Linked DNA regions of Homo sapiens: region 2 is linked to region 1. Evidence: fine-mapped expression QTL. A gene starts in region 1. The other region holds a variant in brackets. All regions are shown on one strand. Distances are between the middles of the regions. Region 1 holds the start of CMTM8 (CKLF like MARVEL transmembrane domain containing 8). Region 2 overlaps CMTM8 (CKLF like MARVEL transmembrane domain containing 8).

Region 1 (2,909 bases):
CAATTCCCAAATATTTAACAAAAGTCTGTGAGAGATGACAGAGGGGCACTGCTGGGGCAGCTGGAAGCTGTCTCAACTGCTTGCAGTTATGAGCACGGCCCTGCAGAAAGGCAGGCCTGGGTTTGAATCCATGCTTCACCATCCACCGGTGTGATTTACGTCCCCTCTCTAGGCCTTCACAGGGGAGGGTGGTCGTTGGATTACACGAGGGTATGAGGACATCTAAAGGGCTTGACAAGATCCTGGTACACGAAGAAGACTCAAACAGTGACCACCTCTAACTGCTGACAGGACTCCAGTCCTTTCTCAGCTATGAAGGACTGGCTGGGACTTCTGGGAAGATCACGTGAGTTTTCAGCCTCTATGCCCTCCAATGAAGAGAAGAACGCCCATGCCCTGCCTCCTTCCCAGGAATGTTCTGAGCCTAAACCAGGATGTGCACAGCACCATGCAAAAGACCTCTTTGGTCCTAAAATAGGTTATGGCACTCAGATTTTATTCAGTAAAATTTTCCTGACTCACCTCAATGTTACTACCAGGGAGATAATTAGGAAAAGAAAGAAGCCCTTTCCTCTTCCCCTGATCTTAGGAAGCTTTATTTTCAGGGAGGAGGCCATCCACGTGGAGATCAGGTGAGAAAGGCACCAGGTGTCTCTGACACTCAACACAAACTCAATAGCCACTAAGCCAAGCTTCCTGCTCCCAGGATCTGCCGCCGCCACCGAGAGGACCCAACAAGCTGAATTTCTCCCACAGCAAGACATCCTGAGGATCACAACCCTTTCTTCCCAGGACAGCCCGAGTTTCCTGGACCTTGTTTAGAGTCTTTCACTTTGGGAAGAAGGCGAGGCTGAGCAAAAACGGTTCCCTAAAGCCCGCGGGAAGATCTGAGCAGGCTCCATCCCGAGAAGCACGGCGGAAGCACGCGCCGGGGTCCAGCTGAGCCCCCCGCCACCCCCGGCCCGTCGGCACTCACGATCTCGGCCACGATGAGGAAGCCGGGCAGGGTGCGGAGGAACTCCCGGTCGTAGGCGAAGCTGCTGCTGCTGGTGGAGAAGTTCTCTGCGAAGGAGCTGGCGGTGGTGGTGACTGTGTGCGAGCGGGCGCGCTGCGGCTCCTCCATCGTCGAGCCACTGCCGGGCTGGCGCGTCCCCAGGGACCCCGGCGGGTCTGGGGCTGGACGCGCGGCCCTGCGCCCTGGGGACACAGGCGCGGGGGAGGGGAGCGCGGCCCGCGCGGGGCAGGAGGTGCGAGGGGGGCGCCCGCCGGGGGCTGTCCAGGCGCGGCGGGTGTCCCTCTAGTGCGCGGTGCCCCTAGCGCCTCGGTGCGCGGGCTCCCGAGCTGCGCTGGGGCCCTAGAGGAAGAGGAGAGCGAGCGAGGGGAGGCTGCCGGGCAGCCGGGGAAGGCGGTGGAGGCCCGGAGGAGGGGAGGGGGCGGGGAGAGGGGCGGGCGGGAGGCGGGCAGGAGAGGGACCGCCCCGCGGAGGCGCCGCGGACGCCCGCCCTCTTCACCTGTTGCCCGACTCCCAGCGGCGGAGAAGGCGCCGCGTCGCACCCAGGGTGGCTGGGTTGGCAGCCTGGCGGGCGGCGCGGAGGAGAGGGCGCAGGGGTCCTTCTGGCCGTCTTCCGCTCCCCCTCCCGGCCTTTACTTCTGTCAGGCCCCGCCTGGCCCAGGCCCGCAGCCTGTTTCCTTCCACCTGGGCGGGTCGGGGGCTGCGGGCATTGGGGCCCCTTAAGGAAACCCAGGCCTCCAGGGACTCCGCCGCTCCAGGACTCGGCGCGGAGGGAATGACTGAGCGACGACCGAGGCAGGGGGTGATGTGGTACCTCGAATGCTGTGGAAATGGCAGGAATGATGACCCGGCCGGACCTTAGACCCGAGATCGATGAGAGGCCGCCAGCACTGCCCGGGAGACGGCCCGCTCTTCTCCCCCTCCTGCTGCGGCCGCCGCCAGAGCCCGGTGTTATTTCCTGCCCCTCCTGTCGGGAACAATTTGAGGAACCAACTTAATCGCTTGGCTTTGAGGGCGCGACGCTTCCAGGCGCTCTCCGCGGCTCTGTCCCGCGGACCGGTGGAGCCTGGGTGACGGCGCCTGGGCCGGAGGAGGGGAGATGTTTGGGGTCCCTGGCCAGGATGAATCAGCGTAACCGTCCCGTCACCCTCGGGGAAAAAAAATGTTTCAAGAAGGCTTGAAGGGTGTGATTTGTGTAATGTTAACTTTAGGACAAATGAGCTGTGCTTTCCTGGCATGGGAAGGGGATGGGGGTCCTCATTTAGTGAGGCAGTTTGTAACAGGGTCAGGGAAGAACTGAGCTCGGCTGCGTGCGTTTATCGGCTGTATGACCCAGAGCGAGTGGCTCTAGTTTTTGGACCTCAGTAATGCCATCTCTAAAATGCAGGCTTTGACAGATGGACCTCTGAACAAAAAGATTATCTTCCGCTTGGTCCCTCCTTCTATTTTGTGAAAGGGTAGCAAGAAACATTTTATCTGGAAGCCACCAAAAGAAAAGGAAATAATCTTTGGCTATAAATCGAGGGTATCTTTGATTCACAGTGAAGGCATTTCTGCTGATCTGTTCCAAGACAGGTTAAAAACGAGATCAGAAGGGACATTTTCTTCACAGTGTCTTATCAAGTGTGCTGAGAAGAAAGCAAAAACGACAATCTAATAAAATAAAACAAGGAATTAGTGTCTTTTAAGTCTAGGGCCTAGCCAGGAAGACCTCCAGGAGTAAAAGTTAAGGCTTCAAAAGCATGGCAAAGATGTAGATTTGGAGAGATTCCATCCATGTGCATTTGGTAAGCACCTTGGGCTGGTGGGTAAATTCTTAAAATTTAAAATATAGCACTTCTCCCTGGAGCAGTAGTTCTCAAAGTGGTCCTTGGACCAACAGCAGGTAAGTTCCCTG
Region 2 (2,909 bases), 43 kb before region 1:
CTCTCTCACTCCAAATGCAATGGGAAGTGGAATATCATGACACATCTTACCAGGATATCTCTGGCTGTTGTGCTGAGAGCAGACCGGTGTAGGGGGTCGGTTATAGGCAGGGAAATCAGCTAAGAGGCAATATAAAAATAATACAAGAGAGGATGTTAGTTTGGCTGAGGGTGATAATACTGCAGGTGGTAAGAATTGATAACATTCTGGGTATATATTTTTTTAATTTTTTTCTAATATCGCCAAATCACCATTCTCATAGCTAAAAATAATTAATGATAATATCCAATATCCAGTCAATATTCAAATAACCCTGATCATCTCATAATTATTTTATGGTTGCTTGGATCAATATCCAAATATGGTACATATATTGCAACTGACTTTTATCTCATAAATCTCTTTTAATCTATAGGCATCTCCTCTATTCCTTTTTCTTTAAAATTTATTTTTTGAAAAAACTGGGTCATTTGTCCCGTACACACAATCTAGATTTTGCTGACTGTGTCCTCATGGGTTCTTTTAATATGTTTCTCTGTTCTCTGTATTAACCCAAAACTGATACTTAGCCTGAGTTGCCTATGAGACATATCAGAAGAGATGGTGAGTGGGCAGATACAAATCTGGGATCCAGGGGAGAAGTCTAGGCTGGGGCTAGAAATGAGGACCTATAGAGAGAGTTGAAAGCCATGATTCTGAGGGAATGAGTGTAGACGGAAAAGAGGAATGTTCTAAGGCCTGAGCCCTGGCACTCTTGTATTTACAGTTGGGGAGATAAGGAGGCACCAGGAAAGAAGATGAGGTACACATCCAGTGAGATAAGAAAAAAAAATTAGGACAGTGACCTTTGAAGCCAAGAAAATAAGATATTTAAAGGATTGAGGGGAGGGGTCAACTGTGTCAATGTGGCCTTCAGGCTCAGTATGATAAGCACTGAAAGTTGACCATTTGGCTTGGCAAAACAGACGTCACTGGTGCCCTTGGTAAGAGCTGTTTGGGTAGACTAGTGACAAGGCTGATTGGAGAGGGTTCAGTCAGGAGCAGGTGGGATGAGAGGAATTAGGAAATAAAGACAACTCATTCAAGAAGTTTTGCTGCAAGGTGGAGCAGAGAAAAAAGGTGACAACTGTTGAAGAATGAGGGACATATCTTCTGGAGGGAAGATATGTTACAGTTTTCAAGATGGCATTCATCACAGCATATTATCTCCAGGAAATTTTAACATCTCAGATAAACTGTCTATTTAGATACTACATGTATATATGTACTTTATTCATTTAAAAAAGGTAAGATTTCCCTCCCTACCCCCAAGAACCAGTTTTTGCTCCCTTGCAAGCAACACCACCCCTTGATGAGAATGCATGTGCTAAATTAATCAAAACGTTCCAAGAGAAGAGACGAATCCAGCTGCCTGACTCTTCCAACTTTTATTAATGTAAAGAGTTCTTTTGATGGGTAAGAGAAATATTTTCAGGTACAGTGTAGCCACTAGAGAGGTGCCAGGGAAAACAGAGCTTACAGCTAAACATGTGCTCCTACACAAAATCCTGCCATGGTGGGCCTACAAGGTATCTCTACATACTAATAGTCATACACAGGAGCATCAAACCTCAGGATTGTCCCCATGCAGAGATGGGG[C/G]TTGGGGAGTTCCAGGATAACTCCCTTCAGAAATAGTTGGGTGCACTGAATTAACAGTCTACCATTTAGAGTCAGGAAGATCTGGTGTGAATCCCACTTCTGCCGCCTCCTGGTTGTGACCTTAGGTCACGATAATCTCTCTCACCCTCAGCTGCTTTATTTATAAAATGAGACAAAGGTAGTTCCAAATATAATTGTCACTTTTTTTTTTTTTTTTTTTTTTTTGCCTATTTTCTCTCGTGTTGGAGACCTACCTTTCCTTCAATGTAATTTGAGTAGGGTCGACTCCACCCCAGGTACCAGAAGTAGACAGATGACCCAGGTATGGCCAGACTACTTATGTTACCAGTGACGGGTCTTGACTGTGAGTCATCCAGGTTCTTGGCACTTTGAGCAAAGAATTGGACAAAACACACAAATGAAGCAATGAAACTACAGATTTTTGAAACGAAAGCACACTCCACAGTATGGGAGTGGGCTCAAGCATGCTGGTTATGGAATTTTCTGGGGTTTAAATACCTTCTAGAGGTTTCTCACTGGTTACTTGGTTACAGCCTATGTAAATAAAGAAGTGGCCCATGACCAGTCTGATTGATTGCAGAAGGCAACCAATCAAAGGCTGAAGTGAAGTTACAAAGTTATACCCCTATGCAAATAAAGACTAGGCCCACGACCAGTCTGATTGGTTGCAGAAGGGGACCAATCAGAGTACTTTCCATTTTCCATCTGCCACGAAGAAAAAGTGGGTGGGGGTGCAAAGGAAGTAGCTTATGATCCTTTTGTTACTTGGGCATGGAAAGTTGGGGTTTTCCTTTTAATTCCATTCTAGGAAATCAGCGTGAATCAGCCTTAGGTTCCCTGCTTCCAGACCCTATTCTCCCCCCTCACTTATGCCTGGCCACATTGACTGGACTGAGAATGGCCATGTGACCTGAGCTAGGTCAATCAGGGACTTCCTCCTGATTGGTGGCCACTACGAAGTGCTTGGTTACCACTATGAAGCAATAGATTTATGGTTTCTTAAAAAAATCACTAATTATATTGACAGTGGGGTGTTAAAGTCTCCCATTATTAATAACAGACACTTCTCAAAAGAAGACATTTATGCAGCCAAAAAACACATGAAAAAATGCTCATCATCACTGGCCATCAGAGAAATGCAAATCAAAACCACTATGAGATATCATCTCACACCAGTTAGAATGGCAATCATTAAAAAGTCAGGAAGCAACAGGTGCTGGAGAGGATGTGGAGAAATAGGAACACTTTTA

The links.
Region 2: its variant is fine-mapped to the expression of CMTM8 in whole blood (TOPMed, PIP above 0.99).

What each region holds. Positions count from the first base shown.
Region 1 is chr3:32,237,187-32,240,095 of GRCh38, reverse strand. CMTM8 (CKLF like MARVEL transmembrane domain containing 8) reads right to left here and starts at 1,416. Exons shown (of 4, transcript NM_178868.5): 1 at 977-1,416. The coding sequence starts at 1,123. RefSeq lists a silencer at 1,403-1,612.
Region 2 is chr3:32,279,801-32,282,709 of GRCh38, reverse strand. The region is part of intron 1 of CMTM8 (CKLF like MARVEL transmembrane domain containing 8); the gene reads right to left. Among named protein-coding and RNA genes, the nearest start is that of CMTM8, 43 kb to the right of the region's middle. The variant C/G (reference allele first, on the strand shown) is at 1,639.